2 separate regions of the Homo sapiens genome follow, and region 2 is linked to region 1. The links come from fine-mapping of genetic effects on gene expression. A gene starts in region 1. The other region holds a variant in brackets. All regions are shown on one strand. Distances are between the middles of the regions.

Region 1 (4,270 bases):
TTGAGAAATGAATGTCATGTTCTCCTGCTACTAACTCAATTTTACATTTTTAAATGTGAAAATTCCAAAGCCAGGCCTTAAAACATGTACACCTATCAAACGGATGCTATTTCTAACTGAAACTCATTCTCCTTATCACTGGCCTTTTACTAAGTCCTAGTTAATTCATTAATTAATAGAAACACCTATCCCTTACTGCCCCTCACATCAAGTCCAAGTATCAGGCATCAGAGCTGTCTGGCTCTGTCACTCCTCCAGCCCACGTAGGGGAGCACTATATAGGAAATGCAGGGGAGGGGAAAAAAATCAACTTCTTGTTATCCCACAGCCTCTATTTTCCCAGAACTGACGTTTTACTTTAAGCCCTTTGCAGCAGTGGTCTCCATAGCATACACTATTGGCAACTAGACGTGTCCTGGAAAAAACTGTAGTGTCTGGCCAAGAAGTTTAAAGGCCCTGGAGAATGTTTGCTGGACACACAACCTAATTTCCAATTTACCAAAAAAAGAAACGAACTCCCTATTTTACTCACCCACCTTAACCCCCACAAACATCCATTTTAGGAAGGTTACAAAAAAATGAACTCTGCCCCATTCAGAACCACTTGGATTATCAAACATTCTTAACTAGGCTCACAACCAGAAAAACCCCACAAACACTACATCAAATCAGCAGGGAAATGACTGTTAAAAATCCTGGATATATTAGGGGCAGGATAAAAATTCCTATATGAGGATTTAAAGATTTATACATACACACATAAAATGACAAACCTAGAGGTTCAATCTCCCTTTTTTTTTTTTTTTACTACCCAGTAGAGAACATTATGTTACACATTCCAAAAACATGGCCCTTAATAAGGCCCGACGAACATCCTTATTCATGCAAATCATTATCTCACCACAAATGTCAAGCTCTGTTCATACACCTTCACCATGTTTCTCAAACCCCACAGCACAGATACCTAAGCCACAGAGCAGTGAGGCCGAAGAACACACACGAGGTGCTTAGGAGAAGCATTAGCCCGTGAACAAAGACCCCGCTGCACAGGCTCCACCACTGGGAACAAATATCAAAGCCGGAGATAATGAACTTGTTTTTGAGATTCCAAAGTGGCATGGTGTCTTTTCTTGACTGTCTGGTTTATTAAAGACGACTGAACCCACCTGAGAATCATTATTTTTAGTGTAAGAGAAGAGAGCCACAGAACACACTTTATCTCCCATTGCTGGAAGGTTAGGGGCTGCTGAGAAGTCAAAGCATCAGGCTTTGTACGTCAGGAGCGAATACAATCCTGATCATCTCTCCCAGATCCATCTGTGGGTCAATAATCGCTTCAATATAACTGCCAAATATAACCTTCATCTGCTACCCCAAGGCCAAAACACATTCGCCAAGACTCTCTTAAATGAAATATTTTAGGGTTTCATCTGCTCTTCTCAGCCCCCAAAGCCTCAAAAACAACACAGCCAGCGAAGTGTCCCGCAAAAAGGTACCCGCTTCTACAGAGAGGAGAGTGGGGGGGTGGTATAAGGCGAGCCGCAGACTGTGGGGATTGGGAGGTAAGGGGTGTGTGAGGGTGGGCGGGCTGGGAAGAGGCATCGTGTAGGAAGGTAAATAAGTACTGACCAAGGGCCGGGAATACAGTCCAGTGGTGGGATCTTTAAATAATCTTGGGGGTTTGGAGACAGGTTCCAGGATTTCACCTGAAAGGCATCCACAAAGTGATTAACTGAATGGGCCCCCCGGGGTAGGGTGGGGGAGGCGAGGAGGAAAGCAAATACACCTAGATTCACATCAACCCTTGGGGAACTCGGTTCCATAGGGTTAGGGATTCCAAAGCCAGGCTCCAAAAAGGTTTAGGGGCCTGTTCGTCCCACTTCCTCCAAATAGCCTCCACGGGGCATGAGTGCCGGAGGGCGGAGGGGGGATTGCCCCACTGAACTCAAGGGATTGAGTGAAGGGGAAATGTGACTCCCTTTCCCAGAACATTAGGGAGGCAGTGGAGGGAGGGGAAGAAACACGCCAAGTGCAGGACCTGAAGGAAAGGTTAGAGACCCCTTCCCCTACAGTCTGAGGTGCGCGGACTCTCAACATCAGGTTCCCTCGGAGAGGCTAAGACCCCACCGCCCGAACCCCACAGTCTTGGCGGGAGAAAGACGCCCCCCAGGAGCACCTGGAGGGAGGGAAGAAAGCCCCCCGCCCCTGGACACGGTGAAGGGCAGAAACCACGGACCTCCAAATCTTGGAGCTGGAGGCTCAGACTCCCCTCTCTGGAACACGAGGGCGCTGGGAGCGCGACCCCTGAGAACTGCCCGAATCCAGTTCCGCCTGGAACAGGGCTCGGGTCCCCAGGGGCCCGGCGTGAGCTCCGTCGCCGCCGGGCGGCTGCGCCTCGGAGATCGGGGAAGCTGACTGGGGGTCACCCCGACTCCTCTGCGCCCCCCACCCGGCCATATTGTGCTCGTGGGGAGGGGGCGCGCTGTAGTCCAGCGGCCGCGGCTCGAGGCCTCGCCCTTGCCGGGCCCTCTCCATCCCGGCCCCCGCCCCCCGTCCCAGGACTCACCCTGGACCCCCCGGGGCCCGGACCCGCCGCTGCCGGCGAGCAGGAGGACAACAAGGGGGAAGAAGGAGGAGGCTCCGGCCGACTCCGCCATAGTAACCACCGCCGCCGCCGCCGCCGCCGCAGCCCAGCAGCGCCCAGCGCGCGCGCGCGCGCCCCCGGCGCCTCCCCTCCTCCCGCGGCCCGGCTCCCGCCTCCCTCTCCTCCGCCCGGCGCCTGCACGTGCGCTCCCGGCGGAGCCGGCGCCGCGGCCGCCGCGCGCGCCCCCGAAGGGCGGGGCCGGGGCGCGCGCGGGCGCCCGCCTTAAAGGGGAGTGTCCCTGTTAAAGGGGTGGGCGGGGCTCACGCCTCGGCCAACTTCGCGGATCGGTGCCGAGCCCGGCGCGGAGGAGGCCGGAGCCGAACGTGCAGTCTCCTCCCTCTCCTGCACCCCACGCAGTGCAGAATTATCTTATCAGAGTCGATCCCCCGCCCCCGTCGAATATTCTACGAATCCCGTGCGTGTTCCAGTTCCTCCATCCCTGCGCCTAGCCTCAAGCCCCCAGCGCGTCCCCTGGGATCATCGCCGCGGTCTCCTAACTGGTTTCCCTGCCTCGCCTCGCCCCCTGCCATCCTCTGGACGCGGCAGCCTGTGTGATGGAATCGCGGCACGCGCCTTTTCAGAACATAGCAAAGCTCTTTATTGATGACAGTATGGGTGAGGGTGCCGTGTGAGGCACTCTGATTGGGCTGGTAGGTAGAACCCTTTTGGTAAACAATTGGCATTATGCATCAAATGCCTTAAAATCTTCATATCCATTTACCCAGTATTGTCCCCTGTCCTCAAGAAATAATAAGAGGACAGATGTTTATGAAAAATGTTAACTGTATATTTATCATTGTAAAAAAGGTAGAAACTAAGTAGACAATAATAGAAAATGTTAAATTATGGCCCATCCATATGATGGAACATTATTTAGTAATTTAAAATCCTGTTTACAAAAACTATTGACATGAGAAAATGCTTACAAGATAATGTTAAATTAAAAAAGCAAAATGCAACACTGTTTACAGTATTATTCAAATTGTACTGATAATATGTGTTTATAGGAAAAAAAGACTGGAAGGATATTTACCCAATAGTAACAGTAGTTATTGCCATAATTTTTTTACTTTTAACATTTCAATAATTTCTAAATATTTTTCAAATAAATGTTACTTTCAAATCTAGAAGAAATGCTTAAGAAAGTAAACAAATCACTCCGTATCTTTCTGAAAAGAGGTCAGTTTCTTTAGCTTGAGAAAGAACTTGATATAAAGGAAAGGGCAGAATTTTTGCAGCCAGAGAATTCTGGATCTGAATTCTGCTTCCTACTAACTAGCTGTGAAAACTTGGGCAAGGTTTGAACCTCTCTAAGCACAGCTTCACCATCTGAGATCTAGGGGTGGAAAGGATGGCCAAGAGATAGGGAGAACAGTTGCTTAAATGGAATTCTCACCTTCTAAGTTTCACCAACCTGAAGAACTCCCATCGTCATATCCGGAAAAAATAAAGCTGAAGACACACTCGCCAGACACAGTGTACACACAATCACATAAAGTCATGGGGAGGCATTGTCTACAAGTTGGTCAGTGTAGCTGGATGAGTAAATAACTTATTCTCCTCTCCCTCATCTCCCCCAAATAGGCACACCCCACCCAGTCCGTCTAAGTGGTTTCCAATCCATGC
Region 2 (4,270 bases), 38 kb before region 1:
GCACTAAGTCGTAATATGGCAGCTGATATTCTTCATGGACTCCTGGGAGAAAAGAAAGTATCTACCTGAGTTATCAACAGCAGGAAAAGATTACTCAGAAGCCGGTGACAAAACCTACACTGTGCTCTGTAAATACCACTACCCCCTAAGGTTCCTTAGAAAGTTAGTTAATTCTAAGTATGGAACAAGAAATACACAAAAGGGGCCGGGCATGGTGGCTCATGCCTGTAATCCCAGCACTTTGGGAGGCCAAGGCAAGCGGATCACCTGAGATCAGTAGTTTGAAACCAGCCCCGCCAACACGGTAAAACCCCATCTCTACTAAAAATACAAAAATTAACCAGGCATGGTGGCAAACACCTGTAGTCCCAGCTACTAGGGAGGCTGAGGCAGGAGAATAGCTTGAACCCTGGAGGCAGAGGTTGCAGTGAGCAGAGATCATGCCACTGCACTCCAGCCTGGACAAGAGTGCAAGACTCTGTCTCAAACAAAACAACTAAACAAAAAGAAATACAAAAGAGTAGCCAGGAACATTTTTTTTCATAGCCAAAGCAAGGAATCTATCAAAGACTACTGGGGGTCACATCAAAAGGCACCAACTTGATAAGCTCCCAACTGAGCAAAGATGGGAACTTTTAAGTAACAATAAGACAAATAACTTCAATGGAAACAAATATTTTTAAAGTCTAAAAAAGGAAATTTCAGTCACCTACCTCTGTGGGAGGCTACAGAACCACCTCATTATTTTGAAAAATGGTAAATAAGTGGAAAGAATCAAGTATTTTTTCTGCCTCTCCTATTCCAACTATATATCATGGGAACCAAATACATATGTAGGGGAAGTAATCATTCGCTTAGTTTTGGACAATATCACCACGGCACGTTAACGACACAAAAATAGAGAACCAATGCTACGCAACTTGTCACAGAAGGACAGAGGAACCCCTGTGAAGGATACGTGTCCCCGAACCCCCAGAAATGATTCTAGCTGCCAGATCTAACTACCAATTCATAGGAAATACCAGGAAGAGTAGAATATGTGAACTCTACCTAAGCAATCTGCAAAATCTAGCCTGGGAAATTCTACAGGACAAATGACCTGGATTCTCCGAAAAAACAGAGTGGGAAGAAAAAATGAGGGGGAACATGTAGACAAGAAATGTAGGAGGTGTATTCATCAACTGCAGGGGATAAAACTTATTGGAACCCCGATTTGAACAAACTGCTTTAAAAATTTAGGAGACTGGGGAAATCTCAACACTGACTAGATGTTAAGTGACATTAATGTTTGCCAGGCACAATGGCTCACACCTCTAATTCTAGCACTTTGGGAGGCCGAGGTGGAAGGATTGCTTGAACACAGGAGTTCAAGACCAGCCTGGGCAACATGGCAAAACCCTTGTCTCCACAAAAAATACAAAAATTAGTAGGGCATGGTGGTGCACCTGTAGTCCCAAGCTACTCAGGAGGCTGGAGTGAAAGGTTCCCCTGAGCCTGGAGAGGTGGAGGCTACAGTGAGCTGTGATCACGCCACTGCACTCCAGCCTGGGTGACAGTGAGACTCTGTCTCAAAAAAAAAAAAAAAAAAAAAAGCACTAAATTTGTGTGTGTGTGTGTGAGTTTCACTCTTGCCACCCAGGCTGGAGTGCAATGGCGCAATCTCAGCTTAATGCAACTTCCACCTGCCGGGTACAAGCGATTCTTCTGCCTCAGCCTCCGAGTAGCTGGGATTACAGGTGCCTGCCACCATGCCCGGCTAATTTTTGTATTTTTAGTAGATTCGGGGTTTCACCATGTTGGCCAAGCTGGTCTTGAACTCCTGACCTCGGGTGATCTGCCCGCCTCAGCCTCCCAAAGTGCTGGGATTACAGGTGCGAGCCACCGCACCTGACCCCTAATGTTCATTTTTTTTTCCTTTTTTGAGACGGAGTCTCCACTGTTGCCCAGGCTGGAGTGCAGTGGCACGATCTCGGCTTGCTGCAACTTCCACTTCCTTGGTTCACGTGATTCTCCTTCCTCAGCCTCCCAAGTAGCTGGGACTACAGGC[G/A]TACGCTACCATACCTGGCAATTTTTTTGTATTTTTAGTACAGACGGGGTTTCACTATGTTGGCCAGACTGGTTGCAAACTCCTGACCTTGTGATCAGCCCACCTCGGCCTCCAAAAGTGCTGAGATTACAGGCATGAGCCACCGCGCCCGGCCTAATGTTCATTTTTTAAAGTGTGGTAATAGCACTGCATTTTTTTAAGTCCTCATCTTTAAGAACTACAAACTTAGAAAGATTTTCCATAATAAAAAGATAGTTTTAAAAAGCCAATTTAGGCCAGGCACAGTGGCTCACGCTTATAATCCTAGCACTTTGGGAGGCTAAGGCAGGTGGACCACCTGAGGTCAGGAGTTCGAGACCAGCCTGGCCAACACAATGAAGCCCCATCACTACTAAAAACAGAAAAATCAGCCCGCAGTGGTGGTGGGCACCTGTAATCCCAGCTACTCGGGAGGCTGAGGCAGGAGACTGGCTTGAACCCAGGAGGCGGAGGTTGCAGTGAGCTAAGATTGTGCCATGGCAATACAGCCTGGGTGACAAAGAGAAACCCTCTCTCAAAAAAATAAAAATAAAAAGCCAATTAATTTTTCTCAAGCCCTTTTCCAGAAAAAGAAAAACAAAACAAAACAAAAAAACCCTGCTGTCTTGAGCTAATGAGACAATTTTTTTTCTTTTAAGTAGAGATGGAGTCTCTCCTACCTCAACCTCCTGAGTAGCTGAGATTACAGGCGCCCGCCACTACACCCGGCTAATTTTTGTATTTTTAATAGAGATAGGGCTTCACATTGGCCAGGCTGGTCTCGAACTCCCAGGTGATCCGCCCACCTTGGCCTCCCAAAGTGCTGGGATTACAGGCGTGAGCCACCATGCCTGGCCTTTATGTCTGGCTAATTTTTTTATTTTTGTAAAGATAGAGTTTCACCATGTAGCCCAAGCTGGTCTCAAACTCCTGGCCTCAGGTAATCAGCCCACCCTGGCCTCTCAAAGTGCTGGGATTACAGGTGTGACACAGTGCCCAGCCTGGGAAATATTTTTAAATAGAGAATTGGACTTGGTAATTATCTAAGGGGTAGTTACAGGCTTAAGCCCTGGCCTCAGCCTGTCCGAGTCTGAACCCTTGTTTACTAAAATAGTTATGTGACCTTAGACAAATTTCCTAACTTCTCTGTGACTCATTTTCTTCATTTGTAAAATGGCGATGATAATAGCACCTACTTATTATTTACTTGTAGTAGTAAAGATTAAATGAGCTTATACATAGCAAGTGGTGAATAAATGTTAGCATTATTATATATTTAGCCTCAATTTCTGGATGTCATAAGAAGAAATAAACTTATTCACAGTTTAAGACCTGTGTGACCAGATTTTTCTTAGTTTGTTTGTTTTTTCTTTGAGATGGAGTCTCGCTCTGTCGCAAGGCTGCAATGCAGTGGCTCGATCTTGGCTCACTGCAAACTCCGCCTCCAGGGTTCAAGCGTTCTCCTGCCTCAGCCTCCCAAGTAGCTGGGACTACAGGCGTGCACCACCATGCCCTGCTAATTTTTGTATTTTTAGTAGAGACAGGGTTTCACCATGTTGGCCAGGATGGTCTCGATCTCTTGACCTCGTGATCCGCCTGCCTTGGCCTCCCAAAGTGCTGGGGATTACAAGCGTGAGCCACTGCGCCTGGCCTCTTAGTCTGTTTTACTGCATATACTGATCAAAATTTAAGAGGTACAATTCCATGAATACTACCTGGGCACTATTTCCATAATTTGGATTTTACCAAACATGTCATAAATGGAAGCTGGAAAAGGGTATTAATATACAAAACAGTTCTGCTGGAAGACTTGTCATATTTTTTGTAGATTAGATTTTTTTAATTTTTAATTTTTGTGGGAACACAGTAGATGTATATACTTATGGGGTACATGAGATGTTTTGATACAGGCATGCAATGCATAATAATCACATCAGGGAAAATGGGATATCCATCCCTTCAAGCATTTACACTGTGTTACAAACAATCTAATTATATTCTTTCAGTTATTTTAAAATGTACAATTATATTATTGACTATAGTCACCCTGTGGTGCTATCAAATACTAGGTCTTTAAAAAATATGGAACGCTTCAGGAATTTGCATGTCATCCTTGTGCAGGGGCCATGCTAACCTTCTCTGTATTGTTCCAATTTTAGTATATGTGCTGGCGAAGTGAGCACCACCAGTTCTTTTTTTCAATCA

What was found. PIP is the estimated chance that this variant, and not a neighbour inherited with it, causes the effect.
Region 2: its variant is the best candidate, but not a certain one, in a credible set for the expression of ACVR1B in monocytes (TOPMed, PIP 0.71).

What each region holds. Positions count from the first base shown.
Region 1 is chr12:51,950,131-51,954,400 of GRCh38, reverse strand. ACVR1B (activin A receptor type 1B) reads right to left here and starts at 2,702. Exons shown (of 9, transcript NM_004302.5): 1 at 2,567-2,702. The coding sequence starts at 2,657. RefSeq lists silencers at 2,708-2,757, 2,788-2,847 and an enhancer at 2,305-2,924.
Region 2 is chr12:51,987,635-51,991,904 of GRCh38, reverse strand. ACVR1B (activin A receptor type 1B) reads right to left here. Exons shown (of 9, transcript NM_004302.5): 8 at 1-42. It also overlaps the pseudogene RNU6-574P. Among named protein-coding and RNA genes, the nearest start is that of TAMALIN, 17 kb to the left of the region's middle. The variant G/A (reference allele first, on the strand shown) is at 2,048.